4 linked regions of the Homo sapiens genome follow. The protein of the gene in region 1 interacts with the protein of each later gene in a pairwise test. Each region holds a gene or a part of one and is shown in the gene's direction. Other genes may lie near its edges.

What was found.
Region 2: the proteins of ANKRD27 (region 1) and KIF5A interact in binary tests that used the Homo sapiens proteins (3 or more experiments, as listed by UniProt).
Region 3: the proteins of ANKRD27 (region 1) and RAB40A interact in a two-hybrid assay, tested with the Homo sapiens proteins (one study listed by BioGRID).
Region 4: the proteins of ANKRD27 (region 1) and RAB40C interact in a two-hybrid assay, tested with the Homo sapiens proteins (one study listed by BioGRID).

Annotation. Positions count from the first base shown.
Region 1 is NC_000019.10:32,596,500-32,602,203, reverse strand, and holds the end of ANKRD27 (ankyrin repeat domain-containing protein 27), read left to right. Parts: intron 1-77; coding exon 78-189; intron 190-2,153; coding exon 2,154-2,232; intron 2,233-2,427; coding exon 2,428-2,500; intron 2,501-3,825; coding exon 3,826-4,059; 3' UTR 4,060-5,198; downstream 5,199-5,704. UniProt on the Homo sapiens protein: May be a guanine exchange factor (GEF) for Rab21, Rab32 and Rab38 and regulate endosome dynamics.
Region 2 is NC_000012.12:57,553,018-57,560,046, forward strand, and holds part of KIF5A (kinesin heavy chain isoform 5A), read left to right. Parts: intron 1-7,029. UniProt on the Homo sapiens protein: Microtubule-dependent motor required for slow axonal transport of neurofilament proteins (NFH, NFM and NFL). Can induce formation of neurite-like membrane protrusions in non-neuronal cells in a ZFYVE27-dependent manner.
Region 3 is NC_000023.11:103,516,471-103,523,764, reverse strand, and holds the start of RAB40A (ras-related protein Rab-40A), read left to right. Parts: upstream 1-4,275; 5' UTR 4,276-4,395; intron 4,396-5,821; exon of another isoform or gene 5,822-6,117; intron 6,118-6,239; 5' UTR 6,240-6,391; intron 6,392-7,294.
Region 4 is NC_000016.10:585,672-593,094, forward strand, and holds the start of RAB40C (ras-related protein Rab-40C), read left to right. Parts: upstream 1-4,394; 5' UTR 4,395-4,620; coding exon 4,621-4,762; intron 4,763-7,423. UniProt on the Homo sapiens protein: RAB40C small GTPase acts as substrate-recognition component of the ECS(RAB40C) E3 ubiquitin ligase complex which mediates the ubiquitination and subsequent proteasomal degradation of target proteins.

The DNA of each region.
Region 1 (5,704 bases):
ATTTAGATCAAAAACAAATAATAACCTATTAAAAAAGAATAAAAACATTACTGTTCCTTTTCCCTTTCAAATTGCAGAATTCAAAAATAATGGAATTGCTTCAGGTGGTACCAAGCTGTGTTGCTTCATTAGATGATGTGGCTGAAACTGACCGCAAGGAGTATGTCACTGTTAAGATCAGGAAAAAATGTAAGAGTTTACGTTCTTTCTGTCACGCTCAAGTTGGGTATATTTAGACATTCATGAGTAGTTGCTGGTGTTCATTTAATTGTATATGTAAAGTGTAATTATAATCATGCCTGGAGGAGATACAGGCACCAAAGAAATGTATGTTACCTCCCAATTTATCAGACTATGGGTAAGCTTTTTTTGTTACTAGTTTTCTGGTTGATGGTAATGATGTTTCCTGAGGAAATAGGATAGAAACTGTCAACACTACCTTGAAGGTTCAGGTGTCTGCCTATGGAGATGGGGAACAGTCTCTGGGATAGTTTCTTTCATGCCTCATGTTCCAAAGTCAGGTGTTCTGGGCATTTCCTGGACATCCAGGGTAAATGCTACCTTTCAAGATTTTTTTTTTTTTTTTTTTTTTGAGACAGAGTCTCGCTCTGTCACCCAGGCTGGAGTGCAGTAGTGTGATCTCAGCTCACTGCCAGCTCTGCCTCCTGGGTTCACGCCATTCTCCTGCCTCAAGTAGCTGCCTCCCACTCTCAAGTAGCTGGGACTACAGGTGCCAGCCACCACGCCCAGCTAATTTTGTTTTTGTATTTTTAGTAGAGAGGGGCTTCACCGTGTTAGCCAGGATGGTCTCCATCTCCTGACCTCGTGATCTGCCCGCCTTGGCCTCCCAAAGTGCTGAGATTACAGGTGTGAGCCACCAAGATTTTTTATTTAGTTAGTTTTTTTGAGACAGAGTCTCACTCTGTCACCCAGGCTGGAGCGCAGTGGTGCAATCTCAGCTCACGCAACCTCTGCCTCCTGGGTTCAAGTTATTCCCCTTCCTCAGCCTCCCGAGTAGCTAGGATTACAGGCACGTGCCACCATGCCTGGCTAATTTTTGTATTTTTAGTAGAGACAGGGTTTCACAATGTTGGCCAGGCTGGTCTCAAACTCCTGACCTCAAGTGATCCGCCCTCCTTGGCCTCCCAAAGTGCTGGAGTTACAGGTGTGAGCCACCGCGCCTGGCCTCAAGATTTTTTTTTAAGTTTGTACGTGTACGGAGGTTGATTATAATTAAAACAGCAGTTGCCGAACAGCAGTGAGACTGAAGTATTTTCTTCTTTTTAAAAAGTTTAGAAGGGGTCCTTGTTCTACTTTTTTTTTTAATTTACAATATGAAATATTATCCAGTGAGGTATGCAATAATGCAATACAATAATATGGATAAACCCATTCACATATCTCGATAACCCTGAGACTGTCTCACCGTAATTGGTTGTGGCTGGGGGAGTTAAGGGAGTTAAGGTTTTATTTTTCTATTTCATGGGGGTTCTCATAATACAGGCTGACTACCCCCTATCTCAAATGCTTGGGACCAGCAGTGTTTTGGGTTTTGGAATATTTGCATTATACTCATTGGTTGAGGATCCAAATCAGGAAATCAGATTCTTCTGAGCATGAAGTCAAAGAGTTCAAAATGTCTCGGATTTTGTAGCTTTTTTTTGAGATGGAGTCTTGCTCTGTCGCCCAGGCTGGAGTGTGGTGGTGCAATCTCGGCTCACTGCAACCTCTGCCTCCTGGGTTCAAGCGAGTCTCCTGCCTCAGCCTCTTGAGTAGCTGGGATTATAGGTGCGTGCCACCACGCCTGGCTAAGTTTTTGTATTTTGGGTAGAGATGGGGTTTCTCCATGTTGCCCAGGCTGGTCTTGAACTCCTGACCTCAAGTGATATGCCCACCTCGGCCTCCCAAACTGCTGGGATTACAGGCATGAGCCACTGCACCCAGCCTGTGGCATTTTAGGCTTTAGATTTTTGGATTGGAGATACTCAACCTGTTATAAATAGGTACTAGCTGTGTTTCTTTAAGCAAATTCAGTGCTTCAGTTTCTAAATTTTGTAAATCTGAGAATAGAAAGATTGTGTCTGTGCTGTAATTTTAAAATAATCTTTACAACTGTTTTTGAAGTTTTTAGATGTTTATCTTTTTATCTACAGGGAACTCAAAACTGTATGATCTACCAGATGAGCCTTTTACAAGACAGTTTTACTTTGTCCACTCAGCTGGTCAGTTTAAGTGAGTATGAAACTCAAGTTGATTTCTGTGCTTTTGCCCCTAGTTTACTCCAAGCTGCACGTAAGCTGCTTCAATTGTAATTGGTTATGGACAAATCTGCACCTACTAATGTCAAAAATGCTGCCACCTTGTGGCCAACCAGAGTGTTTCATGCCACTGTCCCAAATATTTATTTTCGTTTATTTTGGGTTTTAGGGGAAAGACTTCAAGGGAGATTATGGCAAGAGATAGAAGTGTCCCTAATTTAACCGAAGGTTCTTTGCATGAGGTAAGTTATTAAACACTGGCTTTTAATCATATTTTCTAAAGCCCGGCTTTGTCAAAAGTAATCCATGGTAAACACGTCTCCTTGATCGTCATCTTCATTATTCCGTGCGCCGTATGAGTTAGCAGCAGTTAAAACTGGAATTATTTCATGGGACAGTGTAGAGTACAGACTTCACTGATTGTTATAACTAAAAGTACATTTCTGAGCAGAGGAGTGGAAAGTGTTACATGTGTGGGAAACCACAGGTCTTGGTGCTTATAGGAGATGAAACATCCCACATTTCACTATGGTTTTAATCACCAAAGAAAGAAAACGACAGTTTGTATATAGATGGGTAAATGATGTCTCCAAGTATGGTGTACAGTTGCTCAGACAATTCTTTATGTGGCCATCTTCCCACTACATTTTTTTATTTATTTATTTGAGACAGAGTCTTGCTCTGTGGCCCAGGCTGGAGTGCAGTGGCACGATCTCGGCTCACTGCAGTCTCCACCTCCCGGGTTCAAGCATTCTCCCGCCTCAGCCTCCTGAGTAGCTGGGATTACAGGCATGTGCCACTATTCCTGGCTAATTTTTTTGTATTTTTAGTAGAGACGCAGTTTCACCACGTTGGCCAGGCTGGTCTTGAACTCCTGACCTCAAGTGATCTGCCCGCTTTGGCCTCCCAGTGTGCTGGGATTACAAGTGTGAGCCACCGTGCCCGGACCCTACTGCATTTTTAAATCACTCAGAAGCTTGATTGAAAACCTGTGATCGGAGACAGTGATTCTTCTCAGAACCACAGCTTTCCTTGTTGCTGATGAGAATTTATAGCATATGTAGCATAGGCTTGTTGGAACAAATACACAAAAGTTCTAAATTGTTTTAGATAATTAAAATGATTTTAATTAACATGACTAATTTTGATACCATATTTAGTCTTATGTGGTGTTGCTAGGAGACCTGCTGCTTTGTGGGAAAGCCAGAATCGTTGAAATCTGCCTGAGTTCCATCAAGTGCTAGCTTTTCCCTTGCTAGCTGTAGGACTTTAGGCAGGTGGCTTAACTTTGCTGATCCTGTTTCCTCAGGTGTAAAACGGGGATAACAATAGTAGTACATGCCTCCTAGAGTCATAAAGATTGTGAAAACAAGTGAAACATTTACTCTGACACATGTAGTATGCACATGCCATGTTACCACGACAGGGATGTGAGAATTGAAATTATGCCTGTCAAGCACTGAGCACATTATGTGACACTAGGCACTAAGGGGCAGCTGTCACTGTCATGGTTGTGGCTTCCAGTACAGTGAGGACGTCAACGGTTAAAAATGTACTTTTTCTTTAGCCAGGGAGGCAAAGTGTCACACTGAGACAGAATAACCTGCCAGCTCAGAGTGGATCTCATGCTGCTGAGAAAGGCAACAGCGACTGGCCAGAGAGGCCTGGACTGACACAGACTGGCCCTGGACACAGACGGATGCTGCGGAGACACACGGTAGAGGATGCGGTCGTGTCCCAGGGCCCGGAGGCTGCTGGCCCCCTCTCCACTCCCCAAGAGGTTAGTGCTTCCCGGTCCTAACAGGAATGAGGAGTTGTTGAACCCACTGCTAGGAAGCAAGGATGCAACAAGATGATGCTGAGCGTGAACACATCTGAGAACTAAATGTGCTTCCATGAGACTGGCTTGAGAAGTCTTCAGCACCAAGTTCCTGAAAGCTTTTCTGTGGCAGGAAAGAATGCAACAAAAAAGTTAACCACCACCATCTCTCTCCTCTTCAAAGCTAATGAATACAATTGAAACAGACAAAAATTCCAGTAGCATCCAGATCCTTAAGCCAGAGGTGCATGCTTCTTTTTAAGTATGAGGGTTTGTTGGTCACAGTGGGAGAGGTTTCACCACCGCATTCTGACCTCCTCCTCCCAAAAGGTGCTAAACCTCTCTGACCTGTGTACATTCACAAACCACAGCTAGAATTCCTCCACCTAGGATTAAGCTGGAGAGAAGTAAGTAATTTAGGTTTCATGGTACTGTAGAGGCCAGGCTGAAATGTCATATCTGAAGGAAGAAAGCAGCAGCTGGACAATGTTTCTTTGCAAAGCAACACTCGAACCAAAAGATGCCTCAATCCCATTTTGATATTCATTTTAGTGAAAGGATGCATCAGACCTGTTCCACATCATGCACATGGGAAAGGGTGGTTATCATTTTCCTTCTAACAAGTAGGTACAGATATTCGGTTACTACACGTGCACCTGTAGCAGTATTTCTAGAAACATCCCTTTTTGTTGAGAACCTCCCTTGAATGTCTGTCACACTCACACCTGACGGGATGGTTACTGGATTAGAGAGTAGATTTGGCACATCTTTTCTTAGTCTTTTGATTCAAATTCAAAACTTAACAGCACAAACCAGGTCAGAGTTACTTTCGGTTAGAATTTATTGCCATTTATTCCTTTTTATAAATTTCTATAGATTATACTGTTATTTTTATGTTATTGGCCTAGAGCTACACGTATATGGGTTTGTCCTGAGTCCGTTTTCAAATGACCTTGTGATAGGGAAATGGTTTTGTCCATGTTCTTGGAAATACTTGTGTATGTACAGAAGGAAGGGAGGGATTATTTTTCTACAAAGTAATTTATGATTTCTAATTTTCTAATGTGCCTTGGATATGTGCCAAATGATGGAAAAGAAACAGTAAACTTTATGATTCTTGACTGTGTCATGGTATTTTTTTTTAGTTGTTTGGCTGCAGATGATATGTTTCTCAGCCTGTCTGCTGTAAACATGTGCTTTGTGTGTGAGAAAAAGGGTCCCCATTGAATGGATATACATTTTTCAGTTATAGATGTGAGATTGAAACATGGGAACTTGATCACTTAGCTCATTATTCATCTACTGACCAAGGCCTACTTAACCCAGTAGGCACAGTGTCCCGGGCCCACAAAAATGTTTTTCTTTGGAAATCAGAAGAATAAAATGAATACAGCTTCCTACCCCAAACAAACAGGAAATGAGCCCTGTTGCTTTGCTAATTTCTTTGTTCTGATTTTTCCTTTTCCCTTTTTTTTTTTTTTTTGAGATGGAGTCTCGCTCTGTCACCCAGGCTGGAGTGCAGTGGCACCATCTCGGCTCACTGCAGCCTCCGCCTCCCAGGTTCAAGCAATTCTTCTGCCTCAGCCTCCTGAGTAGCTGGGACTATAGGAACCCACCACCATGCCCG
Region 2 (7,029 bases), on another chromosome or scaffold:
TAGCCAAAGTTAATGGCCTGAGTCATAGCAGAAGGGTGTCTGGGTCACCGTCTGTGTGTGGTGCCCATCTTGTTTTGCTTTTGCACACTCAGAATCCAGTGTGACTTTTTCGCCAGACCCATTTAAGTGTCTGTCTTCCTCTGCCTTGGTCTTTCTCAGCAGTGTCCCAGTGCCTGCTGTCTGGACTGCTGCATCTGTACCAGATGTGGGAGGGATGACAGTGAAGAAACACATACATACACACACACACTCTTTCTCTTTCCCCTTCATTCAAGTGTACACAGCTACCTCCCTCAGGTCTCCCAATGGTTAAGTGGGTTCTTAATGCAAGAAACTAGGACCATTGTGTACCTCACTTGGCAAAGCTAGGTTGGGACCTGCAGGGTTATTGGAGCAGAATCAGTATTGTTTGGGGTGGCCTGGGATTTGATATCTGAAGTGGGGAGCAGGGCTGTCCTTTGCTTTGGGGGAGTCTCATAAAGAAAAATGGAGACGAGAAGTAACGTTCATTGTGGCCAGTGTCTCTCCAGCATTACCATGGCAACAATCCCCACGGGTGTCACTATGGAAATCAGGCCTGGCACTTGAAGTTCAGCTTATACCAAGTGCTTTACTGAGGGTTGAACAGGTTGGTCATCTTTGGACCCCTGATCTTAAACCCCCAGCCCCAATTAGCTTCAGTCAGCACACATGATAGAAAAGTACAGAAAGGTGCTGGGATACACAAATGGAAGAGGAGACACCAGGGAGGCTCGGAGTGTGATTAAATTAAAAGAGAACAAAGAACCCTGGACTGTGGGACTCTGAAGAGAGGCCCTTCAGAGAAGGCTATAAGGAGCACTTAGACTGCTGGGGGTGGGAGAGAGATTGGATTTCGGCGACATTTCTAAGAGGAGGAGGGACTCTGTGACTATTTCTCATTAACAACTCACAGAGTCTTCGATTACCTGGAGGTAGAGAGGGTGGGTGGCAGAATTACATACTTCTGAAAATGGGATTGAGGTTGGAAAAAGGGAGTGATGAAAGGCTTTAGTTCTGTCTGGAAATACTTGGAAAAATGCCCAAATGTGAGGAGGGGGGATATGGAGTAGGGGAAGAAAAAGCCTTGATAAGGCTCTGACACAGTGTTGGCATTTCAGTTCTTGGATCACTTTGCAGTGTGGGTCTGGAATCAGATTGCTTGAATTTGAAACTGTGCTCTACCATTTCTCAGCCATGTGACTGTGGGGAAGCTACCTGACCTCTTTGAGCCTGTTTCGTCATCTATAAAGTGGTAATAATAATAGTATCTATGTCCTAGGATTACTGTGAACATTAAATGAGATAATGCATATAAACTGCTTTGTAACATGGCAGGCACACAGTAAACCCTCAATAAGAGTTAGATATTATCACTATTTTATATGCTATCTCCCCACAAGCTAGCTTTGACAAAATTGGGAAGTGGGTAACACTTTTCCTTTTTACTAATTGTTTCATGCAAACCTCCAGATCCCAAGTATCTTCTTGCTCCCTTCCTTGTCAATATCTATGTTTAGTCAACAAATATTTATGAAGAGCATCTGTCATAGTCCTCTATATGTTGCTATAAAGGAATACCCCAGGCTGGGTAATTTATAAAGAAAAGAGATATATTTGGCTAACAGTTCTGCAGGCTGTACAAGAAGCATGGCACCAGCATCTGCTCTGATGAGGGCCTCAGGAAGCTTCCAGTCATGGTGGGAGGCAAAGAGGGAGCAGGAATCACATGGCGAGAGAGGGAAAAAGAGGGAGAGCAAGAGGTGCCAAGCTCTTTTTAACAGCCAGCTCTCACATGAACTCATAAAGCGATAACTCACTCATTACCATGGGGAAGGCACCAAGCCACTCATCAGGGATTTACCTCCTTGAGCCAAGCACTTCCCACCATGCCCCACCTCCAACAATGGGGATCAAATGTCAACATGAGATTTGGAGGGGACAAACATCCAAACTACATCAGCATCCTATAGGCCAGGGACTGTGTTTGGTGTTGGGGATTTAAAGGGAATCCCTGCCTTCAAGAAAATCTGGATCAAGGTTGTGATCCATAGCCCATGGAGTGGCCTGCGCAGAGGCAGGGGAGAGGAACATCAGATATGGCTTTTGCTAACTATCTATATACTCCCCCAGATTCTGATAAGGAACCTCCCACAACATACTACAGTCTGATTCAGAGTATTGTGTGTTATGAGAGCTGTAAATAATGGTGGTGCTTCCCATGTCTATGGGCAGGAAAAGTGGAAGACCACTGGTCTAGTTATTTTCATGAAAAGATCACTTTTCTCTAGGCACATTGCCCATGGGTTAGCCCTGCTGTACAAGGAGCAGTAATGAAAAAAAAATCAGGCAAAATTAATTCATCCTGAGTATAATCAATAGAAAATTAAAAGAAATGTACAAAACTTAGCCGAGCATGGTGGTGGCTGCCTGTAGTCCCAGCTACTCAGGAGGCTGATGCAGGAGAATTGCTTGAACCTGGGAGGCGGAGGTTGCAGTGAGCCGAGATCTTGCCACTGCACTCCAGCCTGGGCAACAGAGCAAGACTCCGTCTCAAAAATAAATAAATAAATAAAAATTAAAAAAACAAATTGGCTGGGCACGGTGGCTCACGCCTATAATCTCAGCACTTTGGGAGACAGAGGCGGGTGGATAACAAGGTCAGGAGTTCGACACCAGCATGGCCAACATGGTGAAACCCTGTCTGTACTGAAAATATAAAAATTAGCCGGGCGTGGTGGTGGGCGCCTGTAATCCCAGCTACTCGGAAGGCTGAGGCAGGAGAATCGCTTGAACCTGGGAGGCGAAGGTTGCAGTGAGCCAAGATCATGCTGCTGCACTCCAGCCTGGGCGAAAGAGTGAAACTCTATCTCAAAAAAAAAAAAAAAAGAAAAAGAAAGAAAGAAAAAAAAGAAAAAACAAATTTACATTTTAAAAGGAATAAACAACTTAAAGACATAAAGAGCCAGGCTTGGAATTTTAGAGCCCAGCCAAGAATACAGAAGTAGGTAGCAGGCCTTCCCAGAACTCCTGAAATCATATCTCATGTCACATGGCTTTCCCTGCTCAGGAGATTACTAAATGCACCAATTTTTAGCTCTTGGGTATCTTTTTTTTTTTTCAGACGGAGTCTCGCTCTGTCACCCAGGCTGGAGTGCAGTGGCGCGATCTCGGCTCACTGGAAACTCCGCCTTCCGGGTTCACGCCATTCTTCTGCCTCAGCCTCCCAAGCAGCTGGGACTACAGGCGCCTGCCACCACGCCCGGCTAATTTTTTGTATTTTTAGTGGAGACGGGGTTTCACCGTGTTAGCCAGGATGGTCTCGATCTCCTGACCTCGTGATCCACCCGCCTCGGCCTCCCAAAGTGCTGGGATTACAGATGTGAGCCACCGCGCCCAGCCCACTCTTGGGTATCTTTTAGACTCAGATCTGAGAATCTCTTCCTTCTTCCCTCTCTGCTCTTTTCTTTCTTCCCAGCCTAGACTGATGTAAAGGGGTTCCTGATGAAAAGGGGCTATAATTGGCTTCAGCATTTGGAGAGCGCTCTCCATTTTAATGCGTCTGTGGAGCCTTCTAGATCCTGTAACTGGGAATGTTTTGAGGGAGTGTGTGTGGGGGCTGGGGTGGGGTGGTTGGTGTGTTGGTGCCCATGTGTTTGTGGGGGGAGGGGAGGGGCAAGATTGGCTTGAGAGTTACATTTAATCCCCTTTGGCTGGGTGCCTGGCTTCATGAAGCATGGATAGAGATTGTTGGTGGGAAAGAGATGAGAAAGCCAGTCTCATCTTTTCACATTTTTCTGCCTGTTTTATATTCTGGCTGCACTGGCAGTTGATTAAATGATGCCCACCCAGATTAAGGGTGGATCTGCCTTTCCCAGTCCACTGACTCATATGTTAATATCCTTTGGCAACACCCTCACAGACACACCCAGGATCAATACTTTGCATCATTCAGTCCAGTCAAGTTGACACTCAGTATTAACCATCACAATTCCACCCCTCATCAACTTGAACCCATACACATCTCCTGAGATCGTACAAATCTTCAAATAAGGACAATAATAAGGTCATAATTATGCGCCTAATATAATACAACTATCCTTCGTACAACCGGAAATGCACCAATCCCCAACCCAAATGCTATTATATAAAGTTAACATACTTAAATGCTGATACGAAGTCAATAAGTCTTATGTCACATAATAAAGGAAAAAGGAAATTAAAAAAAAAAAGATGAGAGGCATTGGCTTGAGATAGACATATTTTGCTTGTTTCTGTTTCTTGGCCACTGGGTGGGAGAAACATTGAGGTAGATTACAATTTAAAATTAATTACAATTCAAAATTAAGGTAGATTTTTCTTTAATAATATTAAAAATAATGTAATTACAACACTAATACATTTTAATTGTTAACAAAGTTCAAGACAAAGGAAAGGACACCGAAGAAGCTAAAAATCACCCAATATCTTACCACCCCAAAGAAGCACTGTTATTAATAATAATTTGATGTATTTTTCCAGTGTTTTTTCTACATATATACATATGTTAATTTTAATAAGATTATATATCATAAACTATATATTGTTTTGTAACCTTTTTTCTCAAACAAAATATTATTACTATTTTGCCATTGTTAAATATTTTTACATAACTTTATTATTTTACAATTTTTCTGTTTTTTTTTTGAGATGGAGTCAGGCTGGAGTGTGCAGTGGTGTGATCTTGGCTCACTGCAACCTCTGCCTCCCGGGTTCAAGCAATCCTCCCACCTCAGCTTCCTGAGTAGCTAGGATTATAGGCATGTACCACCATGCCTGGCTATATTTTACAATTTTCAATTTAACTTTCGAATGTCTTACCTGCACATGTGACAAAATGCAAAGGATATGAAAAGGTTTATATTGTTTCCTTCTCCTTCTCACCCCTCTTTTCCAGCCACACAGTTCCCTTTTCAGAAGGCAACTTCTTGTGGATCTTTCCAAAAACCTACTATACATTTATAAGCAAATACATATATACATGCATACCTTTTTTTACACAAATGGTAGCGTATTATACATCCATTCTGCACCTTTAAAAACAAAAACAGCCTGGGTGTGGTGGCTCATGCCTGTAATCTAAGCACTTTGAGGCCGAGGCGGGAGGATCACTTGAGGTCAGGAGTTCGAGACCAGCCTGACCAACATGGTGAAACCCCATCTCTACTAAAAATATAAAAATTCTGGCTGGGTGCAGTGGCTCACACCTGTAATCCCAGCACTTTGGGAGGCTGAGGTGGGCGGATCATGAGGTCAGGAGATGGAGACCATCCTGGCCAACATGGTGAAACCTCGTCTCTACTAAAAATACAAAAATTAGGCCAGGTGCGGTGGCTTACGCCTGTAATCTCAGCATTGGGAGGCCAAGGCGGGTGGATCACCTGAGGTCAGGAGTTCAAGACCAGCCTGGCCAACATGGCCAAACCCCATCTCTACTAAAAATACAGAAATTAGCCGGGTGTGGTGGCGGGCGCCTATAATCCCAGCTACTCTGGAGGCTGAAGCAGGAGAACTGCTTGAGCCCGGGAGGCAGAGGTTGCGGTGAGCTGAGATGGAGCCACTGCACTCCAGCTTGGGCGACAGAGCAAGACTCTTGTCTCAAAAAACAAAAAGCAAAACAAACAAACAAAAAACCCAAAACAAAACAGAGTCTTGGACACCCTTCCTTATCAGCACATAAAGATTTATCTCATTCTTTTTTGGTTTTGTTTTGTTTTTCAAGACAGGGTCTCACTCTGTTGCTCAGGCTGGAGTGCAGTGGTGCAATCATGGCTCACTGCAACCTTCACCTTCGAGGCTCAGGCCATCATCCTGCCTCAGCCTGCTGAGTAGCTGGGACCACAAGGCCCATGCCACCACACCTGGCTATTTTTTTTTAATTTTTGTAGAGACAGGGTCTCCCTATGTTGCCCAGGCTGGTCTCCAACTCCTGGCCTCAAGGATCCTCCAGACTTGACCTCCCAAAGGGCTCGGATTACACGGTACATGAGCTATCTCATTCAACTGTATAATTTGTTGTAGGGATAGGCCATTATTTAACCAGGCCTCTGTTGGTGGACATTAAGGGTTGTTCTAATCATCTGCTATTACAAACAGTTGAATGACCTTGTATAAATATTTTTTGCATATGTGCAGTATGTCTACAGGATAAATTTTTCGAAGTGGAGGTCATAAAGCATATGCATTTAAAAATGTGAGGCTATTTCCAAATTGCCTTTCACAGAGTTGGCTCCAATTTCTATGTACCCTCAGCAGTATGTGTGAATATCTATTTACTCACATTCTCACCAGTGTAATGCGTTGTCTATTTTATTTTGGCCACTTTCATAGGTAAAAATGGTGTTTCATAGTTTTAATATGCATTTTGCTTATTAACAGTGAGGTCGAGCATTAATTAATATTAATTAATATATTTTAACATTTAGGAGCCACTATAACATCATTTTATGATGTTATAATTTATGATAGTGATATAATTTACATACAGTGTACAGATCTTAGGCAAACAGCTTGATAAATTTTATGACATATGTAGACACCCATGTAACCACTACACAGATCAAGATCTAGAACATTTCTGTCACTCCTGAAAGCTCCTTCATATCCTCTTCCTGTAAATACCACTTGTATGTTGTTACCACAATAGCAGGTAGCTGCTGTTTTGACTTCTAGCACTACAGATAAGTTCTGTCCATTCTTGAACTTCATATGAAGGGAGTAATACAGTATGTGCTCTTTTGTGTTTGGATTCTTTCAACGTGTTTTTGAGATATATTGACGTTCTATTTATTAATGTTCTATTATGATATTTTAATTTTATTTATTTATTTTTTTTGGGACAGAGTTGCACTTTGCTGCTCAGGCTGGAGTGCGGTGGCGCGATCTCGGCTCACTGCAACCTCTGCCTCCTGGGTTCAAGCGATTCTTGTGCCTCAGCCTCCCAAGTAGCTGAGATTACAGGCATGCACCGCT
Region 3 (7,294 bases), on another chromosome or scaffold:
CATTTGGGGAATCAACTTGATGTTTAACATGTATTTGAAATAAATTTACATATGTTTTCTGCCTGTATAAATAATGATCAGTGATTCCCATGTATCTCTCAGATGGGCATTGAAATACACAGTTGGTCAGAAGGTCTTCCAAGCAACTGGAGATTGTAATATGCATTTTTCAATGGTAACCATGTTATTATCCATTCTGTAATACATTTTTTAAGAAGGCAAAAATGTACAAAGTATTAGTTAAAACTGTCAAAATGTCAGATACAAAAGTTCAATATTTTGAAAAATAATAATTTCCATATAATTTGCTCTATTATAATGATACCCAGTCATGTCCCCTAAAATAACCAGCTAGGCCTAAATATTATTATCATTGTTTCCCAGAACATAAGATTTTCAGTTCTGTACTACTAGGACTCTCTATCCCTCCTATTGCCCTGTCCCCAGACAAACACAATACTTTGTCACTATAGATTAAGTTTTATGTCCTAGACATTTATTTAAATGGAATTGTAGAAATGTTTTTCTGCGTTTGTTTTTGATTTTTGGTTTGGCTTCTTTCATTCACCCAATTTATTTTTAGATGTATCCATTTTGTTGCACATATCAATAGTTCATTCTTTTTTATTGCTGAATAGTATTCCAGTATATGGCTATATCATAAATTTTTTATCCATTCACCTGTTGTTGGATATTTTAATTATTTCCAATTAGGATCTCTTGTAAACAAAGCTTCTATGAATATTTGTGAATAAGTCTTTCCATGGAAATAGGCTTTCTTTCTCTAATAAATACTTAGGAGTGCAATGGCTGGATCATGTGGTAGATGTAAGATTAACATTGTAAGAAACTGCCTGTTTCCAAGTGTTTGTACCATTTTTCATTACCACCAGTAATGTATCACTGTTTCATCCTCCACAACCTCGACAGAGCTTGGTATAATCTGTCTTTTTAATTTTTTTAATTCTCACAGGAGTTTAGTAGGATCTCATTGAAATTTTCATTTACATTTCCCTTATAACGAGTGATGCTGAGCATCATTTCCTGTGCTTACATGATATTTGTATGTCTTCTTTAGTGGAATGTCTATTCAAATATTTTGCCTGTTTCTTTACTGGTGTGTGTTTTCTTCTTACTAAGATTTTAAACATATTCTGGATACAAGTCCTTTATTAAATATATAATTTTCAAACATTTTACCCCGGTCAGCAGCTTACTTGTCTATTTTTTCAACCATGTAGTTGGAAAGCTAAAGTTTTTAACTTTGAGGAAGTCCAATTTTTCAATTTCTTTGCTTATAGATTGTGGTTTTGTTGTCTCATCTATGAAATCTTCACCTGACCCATTGTCAAAAAGATTTTCTCCTGTTTTTTTTTTTTCTGCTAGAAGTTTTATAGCATCAAATTTTATATTTAGATCTCAGGTCCATTTTGAATAGACTTTTGTATATAGTGTGATATCTGAGTCACAGTTTATATTTGTGCATGTCAATATTCACTTGTCCCAGCACCATTTGTTGAAACAATAATCCTTTCTCCACTGAATCACCATTGCATCTTTGTCAAACTCAGTTGTCCATATACTTGTGGGTCTATAGCTGGACTCTTTATTCTGTTCCTTTGATCTACTAATCCATCTTGATGCCAATAGCACACTGTCTGGATTACTGTATGTTTGTAAGGAGTCTTGAAATCAGGTAGTGTTTGTCTTCTAATTTTGTTCTTTATCAAAGTTGTACTTCATAGTTGATATGGTTTGGAACTGTGTCCCTACCCAAATCTCATGTCAAATTGTAATCCCCAATGTTGGATATGAGGACTGGTGGGAGGTGATTGGATCGTGAGAGTGGATTTCTCCCTTTGGTTCTGTTCTCATAATAGAATTCTCATAAGATCTGGTTGTTTACAAGTGTGTAGCACCTTCCCTGCCATGTAAAACGCCTGCTTCCGCTTTACCTTTCGCCATGAGTTAAAGCTCCCTGAGGCCTCTCCAGAAGCAGATGCCTCTATGGTTCCTATATAGCCTGCAGAACCGTAAGCCATGAAAACCCCTTTTTTAAAATAAATCACCCAGTTTCATGTGTTTGTTTTTAGCAATATGGGAACAGACTAATAGAGTCTAGGTCTTTTACATGTCCATATGAATGTTAGAATCAGCCTGTCGGTTTCTTTAAAAATTTTTTAATAGGATTTCCATTTGAATTGCTCTGAATCTATAGATCAGTTTTGGAAGAATTGACATCTTAACAATACTGAATCTTCTCAGTATTGTTTGTGACCCATGAGCATGGTAAGTCCTCCACTTATTTAGGTCTTTAATTCTCTCAGCAATGATGTGTGGTGTTCAGTGTACAGGCACTGCACATCTGTGGACAGATTGTTCATAAATATTTCATACTCTTGATGATGCTATACATGGCTTTGTTTGTTAAACACAATTGCTAATTACTATATTTTCACAGTACTATCAGCAACCAAGTGTTTAACATCAGTGAGGCATTTTTTTGGTTGAAAGCACAGCTTACTCTAGGATGGAAAAGGTATTTGATCCTTAACCTGTGTTTACCTGTATTTCCGTATCTGCTTTTACAAGTCATTGGCGATATATTGAAACTATGGAGGAAAATGTTCCAGAGACAATTCTACAGGTCATCTTCAGAAATCACACCAAAAGAACATAGTTTAGTAGCTTTCAACTTTATATGTGTGGTCAGAAATGATTTTGTTGCAATGTGTGGCTCAGGCTGGAGTGCAATGGTGCAATCATAGCTCACTGCAGCCTTGAACTCCCAGGCTCAAGCAATCCTCTCACCTCAGCCTCCTGAATAACTGACTACAGGTGTGTGCCCCCATGCTCAGCTAAACTTAAAAACATTTTTCAGAGACAGAGTTTTGCTATGTTGTTTAGACTTCTCTCACACTCCTAACCTCAAGCAATCCTCCTACCTCAGCCATCTGAGTAGCTGGGATTATAGCCACGAGCCACCATGCCTGGCGAGATTTACTTCTTTACCCACCAGTAAATCAACCTCAATAAATTCTTGGAATTTGGAGTGGTGAGAGGGTGAGCAAGCATATATGTATGTGAGTATGTATACATTTGTATGTCACTGAAGCTGTCAGGAATTTTTATTGTAAGGACTACTTGAGGTTAATTACTGTGCATCATGTCAATCCTATTTAGTTCCTAGTACATATTAGGAACAAGCTCGGGATAGTGGTGTTTGTTTTTTCTCAGCTTTCCTTGGCCAGAATGGTTACCATGGTGACTCAGTGACTGCGGTGTGATTTGGTGCAGACTGAGCATCCATTTAGGATTCTTGCCCGAATCTCTCACACCACATTGCCTGTCCATCAGATATAGTATTAGCTTTTCATCTTATGTGTAATTAATCACTTTTCAAGGGCTCAGAAGAAAGTTGCTTCACTTATCTGAGGTTAAGCTACAGATAACATAAAAAGACACTAAGTACCTTGAAATAAAAGGAAATGAGTTGTTGATATTCCTCTCCTGCCCCAATCTCTATTGGGAGGTTAGAAGAGAAATTCTTGGAATCATACAGCATGTGCTCTTTTGTGTCTTGCTTCTTTCAGTCAACATAATGTATGTGAAATTAATATTTATTGTGGTCTATATTGTAGATTGCTTATTCTCATTGGTGTAAAGTATTATATTATTTGGATATTTCACACTATATTTATCTGTGATGGAGATTTGTGTATTTTCCAGTTTTTGACATCTCATGAATAATGGTGTTATGAATGTTCATGTTCATTCTTTTGGATGAACATATATTTTCTTTTTTAAAAAAATCTTATTATCAATAATATTTGAACTATTTAATATCTGTCATCTTAAAATTATTATTCATAACACTTTTTACCTTGTAGCTATAGACAAATACATTCCCATTTTAGCAGGTTAATGAAATTATCTTTATAATACTATAGAAGCATTTATTTGAAGAATACCAGAAGGAACATCCTGAAAACCAAGAACTCAAAATGCCTTTTTATCCCAAAGACATGTTTTACAAATATATACCCATTCATCCATTTGTTTTCACAAATGAAGCTACAGAGAACTTTGAATATAATGATGTGCAGCAGGGGCTTATTCCTAACATATTTAAAATTTAGGTCAACCAAACTTCTCTGTGGAAACTGAGTTGAAATCCGAAATCTTACAATCCTAATTTCGAGCCACATTCATTTTAACTTAATTTTAACATGTTTTGCAAAATGTTCCAATATAAACTTAATAGTTCCTATACCACCAAACATGGATCCTCATGATTTTATTTTCTAGATTGGCTGATAGGCTGAATAATCTCCTGTAGGGTAAGAAGTGTCAACTGTATCAAGCACATGGAGGTGGACTGGCTACAGGAGAAAGGTTTTCCAAATCAAATTCCAAGTATTTCTTTCTCTTTTTATATTACCATTAGGAGAAATAACTAATGTAGATGACGGGTTGATGGGTGCAGCAAACCACCATGGCACGTGTATACCTATGTAACAAACCTGTACATTCTCCACATGTATCCCAGAACTTAAAAGTATAATAAAAAAATTTAACAAAATGGTGTTAGATTCAGAGGCTTGATTCAATTTAGATTTGTTTTGGTCAGAAGTACTTCATATGTGGTATTGTTTATTCCTATAGTGTTACACAGGGGGCTCATTGTGTCTAATTGTCTCTCCTCTTGTGATGTTAAGATTAATTACTATGTTCAAGTATTGTTAAGCTGATCCATCCATTATAAAATTTCCCATCCCTTTTTCACCTCGATTTTTCTGCAGCGTCTAAGGATTGTTGCTTAGTTCTATATTCATTAAAGGTCATAAAAGGATGATATTCTAATTCTATAATTTTCTCTGCTTTATTAGCTGGAATTATTCTATTAAATAAACTTTCATAAACCATTAGGTTACACTGAGGGATAGTATGTATAGAAAGGGTTGGATGAGTGCCTAATTCTTTTGCAATATTTCCACTTTTCAAAACAATGAGTTGTTTCCCTAGGGTTCTCCAAAGGCAAGCAATGAGTTGATATTGTTTGTTTTATTTTATTTTTCTTTTAGAGTGTCATCATGAGCTGTAGAAGTTTTTATATTATAATGTGTTTTAATCCATAGTAGTCATTATTTTATTTAATGTTCAAATTGCTTCATCTTTGTCCAGCGAGAGCCCCTTAAGCTTGGCTTCTGAGTCTTTTTGACGCACTCTCTGGCATGATAGTTTGGTCCAGATTCATCTAGTAGAATGGCTACACAGACCTAAACTCAGTCATTTCTCTAAGATAACCTAGTTCCTTTCAGTGTGATGTGTTTTAAGTGGATTCAATATGGGCACTAGAGTTGCTCATTGCTACTGGGTCTATCATGTTTCTTCACCTTTCTAGTGCATGGAGCCAGTGTATATATATTATATTTTTAAGGGAAAAGACATTATTGGCTTCTGTCCTGGGCTGTTTTTCCTTCTCTTTATAGGTAATGATTTTTTAAATCAATTTTCATTAAAACTTTCCAATTTTAAAAATATAAGCAAATAGAATGTTTCTATTAGTTTTCTCCTATTCCATATATATAAGGTGACATATTCTACACTGGTGGAGTCCAATAGAATTTCTACAAAGGTGAAAATATTCTATGTCTCAACTGTCCAACATAGTAGCCACTAGCTACCTGTGACTATTAAACACCTAAAATGTGGTGAGTGTGACTGAGGAAGTGAATTTAAAATTCCATTTAAATTTAGTTAACTTAAATAGCCATGAGTGGCCAGTGGGTATGGTATGGGACAACAGCAGCTCTACACATTTTTCTGCACTTTGCTTTATTCACTTAATGGTATATCCTGGAAATCACTACATAGCAGCAGAGAGAGGGAATCTTCCTTGCTTGTTATACCGGCATTGAAATCTAGGATGTAGATGCACCTTAGATTATTCAGTCAGTCCTTTATTGGTGGACATCTGTCTTATTTCCAGTCTTCTGCTGTTACAATTTGTTCTGCCAAGAATGACCTTGTGCTTCTGCCTTTTTATCTTTTTGAATTGTATCTTTGGGATACATTCTCCGAAGATTGTTGGTTCCAAGATAAAATAATTGTGCCCTATGAAATAGAAGATTTGAAACAGAGAGCATTTAGAAATATAGTAGCAATAAATGAATGTTGGTTTTATCTTATCATTCCTTTGATTCCATGTACTCTCTGCTCTCTTATTTTCTTTCTAGTGTGACGTGGGTGAAGGAGTTCTTATTGAGCCATGGGAGGAAGAAATAGTACAGAAGAGCAAAGAATAATAATGAGTCAGCTAGACAGAAGACAGGAGTCATCAGATTTGTACCCTAGTTACTCGACCCATCAACTGACTGTGGTTTTTGGGGTGAGTCTCTTCCCTCTGTTGGCCTCTGGTCTAACACAGAAGGATACTCAGTATAGAAATAGTGGTTAGGGGAGGGGGCTTTTGGGTGAGAAGGACTTGGATTTGACCCTGATAACCATTACTTGCTGGTTGCATGATCTGTATCAACCAATTTATCTACCGTGTGCCCTGTAACTATTTATGTCTTTTATTATTATTCCTATCATGCATACAAAGACTGAATGATAAAAGTGGGGATTACTTTGCCAGGTATTAAAGTGTTCTTTGAGCGTATAATTTCATAAGTTTTGGACAGAGTGGTTGACATGCAGGTTAAAGAAGTCTAAAGAAAGCTCTTGAGTAGACCCTGGCATATAACGTCATTTAAGATGCTGCAAGTATGGCATTTCTACTCAAATGCATTGTTAAGGAATTGGGTCTGGGCCAGCTGTAAAGGGTTCATTAAAAAGCAAAGTTAGATTATATCTTATACCTTGTCATGTACTTAGAATGTTTCATCCACATGTTAGTACTTAAGACAAAAGCAAAACTGAAAATAACAACAAAAAACCCAGGATGCTATACTGTACATATAATTATAACAGCTTTATGAATTGTATTTGTAATGCATGTACAGTACATGTGCATATATCCATGTATAAAAAATCCTTAGAAAGATCTAGTACCATGTTAATTTTAATTATGATGGGATTGCTGGCTATTGATATTTTTAACCTCTGCATTTGGCTCAATATTAAACATTTGCTAAGGTGAGAGTATGGATTGTACATACTCCATACCCCATGCTTGACTTACTATGGGAGTTACATCCTGATAAACTCATTGTAAGTTGAAAATAATTGTAGGTCAAAAATGGGCATTTGTAGACAAGATGAGATGTGAAAATACAATATCAAAAAAATC
Region 4 (7,423 bases), on another chromosome or scaffold:
GGGTGCCCCTCATCCCTCCACCAGAGCTCTGGTCCCCCCTGCCTTGCCGACCCAGACAGGGCAATGGGCTGGAGCTTTTCCAAGGCCTGCCCAGGACCATTTATGGACCCTCAGGGCACCCTCAGAAGCAGACACCTTCCCTTTCAGAGTTGGGGCCGCCCACAGAGAAGGGTCTCACCAGTACTTCACAGATTCAGACTTACAGAAATGCTGTGAGAATAACACAGATGCTTCCAGCACCCTTCACCTACATCCCCCCACGACCACATGCCATGTGTATGTTTTCACATTTTTTCTTTTTTTTTTTTTTTGAGAGCGGGTCTCTATTTTCCAGGCTGGAGTGCAGCCTTAACCTTCCTGGGCTCAGGTGATTCTCCCACCTCAGCCTCCTGACTATCTGGGATTACAGGCACCCACCACCACGCCTGGCTCATTTTTGTACTTTTAGTAGAGATGGGGTTTCACCGTGTTACTCAGGCTGGTCTCAAACTCTTGGGCTCAAGCCATGTGCCTGCGTCGGCCTCCCAAAGTGGTGGGATTACAAGTGTGAGCCACCGGGCCCAGCCAGCACATTCTTTATGTTTTTCTGCACCATTTGAGTCAGCTGCCCATTTTGGCTCTGGAATTTTCAGCGTGCATTTCCTCAGAACAAGGCAGCCAGTGCGGTGCTCAAACCCGGGGCTTTTGCAGGGATGCCGTCCAAGCCACCGACCCCATTCCAGCGTGTCCCACGTGTCATGGGCCAGTCTCCAAAGCCTCTGGGGGCTTAGGGATGGAGCCCGTTACTCAGGAGTGTCCCTGGCTGGGTCTGCTGGTGACCCTCATGATGAGATGCCACTCATGCTTGTGGCAGCAGCAGAGGGCACCACCCAGGGTGGCACACAGAGCCCACCTGTTCATCCCAGTGATGCCAACGTGACTACTTGGTCGAGGTCTTGTCTGCAGGATTTTCCGCTGCAAAGCTACATTCCCTTGTCATTAATTTGTCCACAGAAATGGGACCATGTTGACGCTCCATCCCTCACTGCCCTCATCCACTGCACGCTGTGTCCACCAAGGTGATTGGCTCTGTCCACTCATGGGATGTGAGTGAGGCCTCCCCTTGGCAGCAGGCCAGGACTGGGGGGGGTCCCTGAGTAGCTGAAACTTGTAGGTGCTCCCTGGGCACAGGGCTTCAGGGGCCAAGGCTTGTCTGCCCCACTGGGCAACTGTCCACCCCCTTAGCAGGACTTTGAGGACATCCCGGCGGCTGCTGGGCTCCCCGGGGGCAGGGTGGACACCCCAAACTGCTCCCTTTGTCTCCCAAGCCCCTCACTTGGACAGAGGCTCCGCTTAGTGTCCTGGCCCGTCTCTGCCATGGCCATTGAGTGTGGGGTGTGGCAGAAGGGGGCTGTCAGGGTCTCCACCAGACACTGCTCAGGCCTCCGAGATGGGCCCAGAAATACCCTGACTGCTCAACAAGTGGGTGCCCAGGTGGTGGCTCACCCCAAACTTCTGGGTGGAGGTCTCTTCCCACACTCCACTGTCTTTGGCTGCCCTGTCCCTGGCCTGAGATCTCTCAGCTGCAGGGATGGTGTCCTGCCCCTGCCCAGGCCTGGCTTGGCCATGGTGGACCCCAGGACACCCTGCGTAAGTGCACGCAGCTGCCCCTCGGTCCACAAGGCCTGGATGCCAGAGGATGGCACCCCTCTGTCCATCCCTCCCTTCACTGGGCCTGCTGCCCCAGAGTCCGTCCCTCCCTTCACTGGGCCTGCTGCCCCAGAGTCCGTCCCTCCCTTCACTGGGCCTGCTGCCCTAGACCCATCTGGGTTCCCTGGGACACTTTTCTGCTCGGAGGCTGGGAGGTCAGAGGGCACAGCAGCTTTCCAAGGATCTCACCCTATGGAAAGGTTCCTGAACCCAGGAACCCAGGACAGGGCTGTGTCCACAGGCTGTGGTGGGCAGCTCCAGTGGGAGAAACCTGACTTCTTCATCAGCCAGGGGATGACCCTTTCTTGTCCCAGGAGGTGGGAACTAGGCAGCAGTGGCCCACGGCTGGGTCTGGAGAGCGTTTTACTTTGTTTTTCTTTTTTAAAAAAGTTTATTTTTGTGAAGACCATAAGAACATTTTTAATTGTTTATTTTTGAGGCACTTTTTTTTTTTTTTTTTTCCTGAGACAAGAGTCTCACTCTGTAGCCCAGGCTGGAGTGCAGTGGCACAATCTCAGCTCACTGCAACCTCCGTTTCCCGAGTTTAAGCAATTCTTCTGCCTCAGCCTCCTAAGTAGCTGGGATTACAGGCACGTACCAACATGCCTGGCTCATTTTTGTATTTTCAGTGGAGAGGGGGTTATCACGATGTTGGCCAAGCTGGTCCTGACCTCAGGTGATCCACCCACCTCAGCCTCCCAAAGTGCTGGGATTACAGGCATGACCCACCGTGCCCGGCCTCAGAAAGCGTTTCTGATTTATGTTCTCAGGAAAGGAGGAGACGGCTGCTCACCACTATCCACCCCCCGCTTCCAGGCAGTCTCAGAAACCGAGGAGGAAACATCACATCTTTGGTGCTTCCCGTCCCTGGAGTGAGGGGCCTCAGGGACTTCACAGCCAGGGCTCAAGTCTGGGCACAATGACCTCTGAGCAGAAGAGGCTCTCCCTGACCCGCCAGGTTGTTTCCGGGTTAATGCCTGGGGAACTTGGCAAGGCGCCATCTCTACAAAAAATACAAAAGGTAGCCGGGCATGGTGGCGCCTGTAGTCCCAGCTACTCGGGAGGCTGAGGCTGGAGGATCGCTTGTGCCGGGGAGGTAGAGGCTGCAGTGAGCCGAGATCGCGCTACTGCACTGCAGCCTGGGCGACAAAGGGAGACCCTGTTTCAAAAAAGAAAAAACTGGTGCGTCGATGTGGTCGCCGCTTAGTCAGGCCATGTCTTCAGCTCTGGGGGACGGGAGGTCACTGGAGGTGTGGGGCTGCCCGTCCTGGCGTCCCTCTGTGTAAGCAGCACCTGCTCCCGGAGGCACAGCCCTGGTCGGGGCCCCTCTGGAGGAGGGTTCTTGCCGGGCTCTGCTCCTCGCCGGCGGGGCAGACGTGACGGGCTCCGCACCCGGTCTGGAGAGGGCTGCGCTGGGTCGGCGCTGACGTTACTGCTTTTACTTACGACTGTAACAGCGCTACTGAACGCAGAGCACGTATCACAAAGCTCACCCGTTCCGAGTGAGTAACTTCACCGAGAGAGGCAGGACCATCCCCACGACGGTAGGACCTTCTCGTCACCCCAGAAAGAACCACGTGCCCACTCAACCCCCGACCCCACGCCGGGGCCCGCGGACGCAGCCGCCTCGCTCGCCCACGCACCTGCGGCAGCCGGGCCCGGCAGGGACGAGGGCTCGGCGGCGCCCCCGGGAAGAGCGCGGTCCGGGCCCTGGGTCCCCGTCCAGGAGGCGCCGCTGCCGCAGTGAGCACGTCGGGCCGGGTCTTGAGCTCGCGCCGGCCGCGCTCCCCGCGTCCCGAGCTGTGGCGGCCGCGTCCCCGGGCGGAAGGCTCACGCTCGGTGACGCCGCGCTGTCCCAGAACCTCAGCGACTTTGCAGACTCACTGGTGACCCAACGGTGCGCCCCGCCGCCGCCGGGCGGAAGTCCCGCCCCTGCCCCGGAGAGGAAGTTCCGCCTCATCGAGCGCCGATTGGCCGCACCGCCTTAGAGAGGACGCGCCCGGGGCCACCCCGCCGCTCCCTCCGAGGGTTCTGCGGAAGCAGGCGGCACAGCCTGCGAGGGGCTTTCGTTTCCCGGACTCAGCCGCATCGCCTCGGCTCGGGCGCGCCTGCATCCTGCCGCCCGTCCGCGCGTTGAAGGGGCGGATACAAACAACGTGGACTTCCGAGCCCCTGATTGGCGAGCGTGTAGGAAAGGGGCGGGGTTAGCAGAGCCGTGATGGACATGCAAGCGACCCAATGGCGCCGGCGACGGGGCGGGCGAGGACAACGGCGTTGTGGGCCGGGGGCGGGGCGGCCGGCGGCTCTGGGATTTCTCTGGGAGGCAGCCGCAGGGAAGGGAATGATCTTGGTGAACTTATAATCGAACCAATGGTTCCGGGAAAGCAGGAGGCGAGTGGCCAATGGCGACGGCGATGAGGCAGGCGTCCGCTGTCTCCGCAACGCCGTGTGGGAAAGGCGGGGGAGGGGCGGTCATGACAGACGTGCAGACAGGCCAATGGCTGAGGGAAGGAGGGCGGCGGGCGACCTCTGGTGACTACGGGAAGGCAGGGCGGGGTGGTGAAGAGGCGGTGCGACCGGAGGTCTGGCGGCGCCGTGTGGAACGCCGTGAGGGCGGGGAAGTCGTGACGGACGGGCGGGTGGGCCAATGGGCTCGGGAGGGCGGGCGAAGGGTGGCCAATGGCGGCGGCGCGGCCGGGGGTGGGGCGGCGCGGCGGCCCTGGTGGTGCGGGAAGCGGCGGGGCGGCGGCGAGGCTGAGGTGCGCCCGGGCGCGGGCGGGGCGGGGCCGGCGCTGGGCTTCGGGCGCGCCCACTCGGCCGCCGTGGGGCGGACGCAACGGGCGCAGGTGCGGGGCGCGGGCTCTCTCACGCCGCGGCCTCACCCGGCGGTGCTTCGGCAGGCGGCCGGCGCGGGGCGCAGGCGGCGCGGCCATGGGCTCGCAGGGCAGTCCGGTGAAGAGCTACGACTACCTGCTCAAGTTCCTGCTGGTGGGCGACAGCGACGTGGGCAAGGGCGAGATCCTGGAGAGCCTGCAGGACGGCGCGGCAGAGTCCCCGTACGCCTACAGTAACGGTAAGGCCCGGCCCGCGGCGCGCGCTGCTACGCGGGGCCCGAGCCCGGCGAGCTGGGCACGGAGCTCGCCCTCGGCCCGGCCCTTCCAAGCGCCGCCGAACGTTCCCAGGAACGCCTTTGCCTGGCTTCCAGACTCGGTAGCTCGGTGGCTGCGGGGTGCCCGTGCTCCAGTCCCGAGGTGACGCCGGGGGGCAGGAGGACGGACCAGAGGGACGCGCCCAGCGGGGACGGTGCCATGGACCCGGGGTCTGGGGGACGGTGTCACGGGTCCGGGATCTCAGGGGAAGGTGTCATGGGTCCGGGATCTGGAGCCCAGGGGAAGGTGTCATGGGTCCTAGAGAAGGTGTCATGGGCCTGGGGAAGGTGTCATGGGTCTAGGATCATCTGGGGTCCGAGGGAAGGTGTCATGGGCTCGGGGGAAGGTGTCGTGGGCCGGAGGGAAGGTGTCATGGGTGCAGGATCTGGGGTCTGGGAGAAGGTGTCATAGGTCCGAGGGAAGGTGTCATGGGTCCAGGATCTGGGGTCCGGGGAAAGATGTCATGGTCCCGGTAGAAGGCGTCATGGGCCAAAAGGAAGGTGTCATGGGTCTAGGATCATCTGGGGTCCGAGGAAAGGTGTCATAGATCTGGGGGAAGGCATCATGGTCCTAAGGGAAGCTGTCATGGGTCTGGGATCATCTGGGGTCCGAGGGAAGGTGTCATAGATCTGGGGAAAGGTGTCATGGGTCTGGGATCTCAGGGGAAGGTGTCATGGGCCTAAGGGAAGGTGTCATGGTCTGGGATCTCAGGGGAAGGTGTCATGGGTCTAGGATCATCTGGGGTCTGAGGGAAGGTGTCATAGATCTGGGGGAAGGCATCATGGTCCTAAGGGAAGGTGTCATGGGTCTGGGATCATCTGGGGTCCGAGGGAAGGTGTTATAGATCTGGGGAAAGGTGTCATGGGCCCGGGGAAGGTGTCACGGACCCAGGTCTGGTGGCAGGTGCTGCTGGGCTGCTCTTGGGACCCTGTCTCGAGCGTGCACAGATGACAGGTCCTTATAGGCACGCTGTTCCCCTGAGGTATTTGCTTACTGCTGAGGGAGTCAACGCTTTGTGCTAGAAGAAAATACCTCTGTAATGAGTTACTGAACATTTGTTTTGTTTTGTTTTCTTTTCTTTTCTTTCTTTTTTTTTTTTTTGAGACGGAGTCTCACTCTGTCGCCAGGCTGGAGTGCAGTGGCACAATTTCAGCTCACTGCAACCTCCGCCTCCTGGGTTCAAGCGATTCCCCTGTCTCAGCCTCCCGAGTAGCTGGGACTACAGGTGTATGCCACCACGCCCGGCTAATTTTGTTGTGTGTATTTTAGTAGAGACGGGGTTTCAGCATGTCGGCCAGGATGGTCTCAATCTCCTGACCTCATGATCTGCCCACCTCGGCCTCCCAAAGTGCTGGGATTACAGACGTGAGCCACTGCGCCTGGCCTGAACGTTTGTTTTTAACTTCCAGTGGCATGGCTAAAATACACTAGATAGGTGGCATCACTGGGGCTTGCCTGCCTGAGCATGCCTCTTAATTTAGGTGGTTAACAGAGTGAGTGAGACGGTGTGGTCCTCATCCCCTCTCATGGGGGCCTGGACCCAGCCGAATGGGATGTGGCCCCAGATGAACTGGGAGCAGTCAGCATCCAGCCTCCCCAGAGTCCATCTGCGCTTCAGGGAATGCCATCTACGCTGGCGAACTTACCTCTCCTGGTCCCTGCCCTCTCCCCTTGCTTTGTTTCTTGGGCTCTTGTCCGTCCTGTCTGACTGCCCTGAGCGTCTGCTATTTGCTGAATTGTCTGCCTTTGGCTGCTGAGAGTGTGGGCGCAGCATCCCCCACTCTCTCAACTCGGGGGTTGGCAGAGCGTGGGATTACCTGGACTGAGGCTGAGCGCGCTTCCTCCTGGCATGGCTTCAGCAGTGGGCAGCAGCACCGGGGGCTCTGGAAGCTTGTGCTCCTGGCTTCAGCCTGGAGGAGGGGTTGGAAAGGGCCAGGGAGGAAGAGCTCTGTGTCCATTTTGAGGTGGGGGAAGTGTAAGGCCCACTGGGGCATTGGGGGCTCACACGTTAGGCCCCTGCACCTGCCGCCTCCTGGTCCTGCACTTGACAGTGACTGCCCCAGAATTGGTAACTCCTGACTCAGGTGGTGGGCGGCCAAGTTGATTGTGAAGGTGGCGTTGCCTTCTAAAGCTTGGCTCCAGGGGCGCTGCGCACTCCCAGGAGGCTGGCGGCGTGCGTGTTTGTGCATGTTCAGAAGAGCACGGGAAGGATTGGGTTTCATCAATCGGTGTTTTCCCAGGACATGAAGGCGTGCTTCTGAGGGCCGGCTCAGCCATGCTGGCCAGCTCGCCTACCCAACTGCACCACACAGCCAGGAGCTGGAGAGACAGGACCCTCCTTCCTCCCTGTCCCCTTCGTCGGGCTGTGGGGCATTGCCACACTTCCTCTGACATGCTCACTGAAGTGGGGCCAGTATTGTGTAAGACGTGGAGACCTGCCTGCTTGCAGAGACTTCAGAGGCTCACAGTGGCTTGGACCAGAGGCAGAGAGGAGAGTCCACTCTTAGAAAGACACCACGTGCTCTCAGGGCCCGGGGCACACTTCCAGGTCCCCGCAGGAGTCCTGTGGCCTCGAGCAGAGAAGG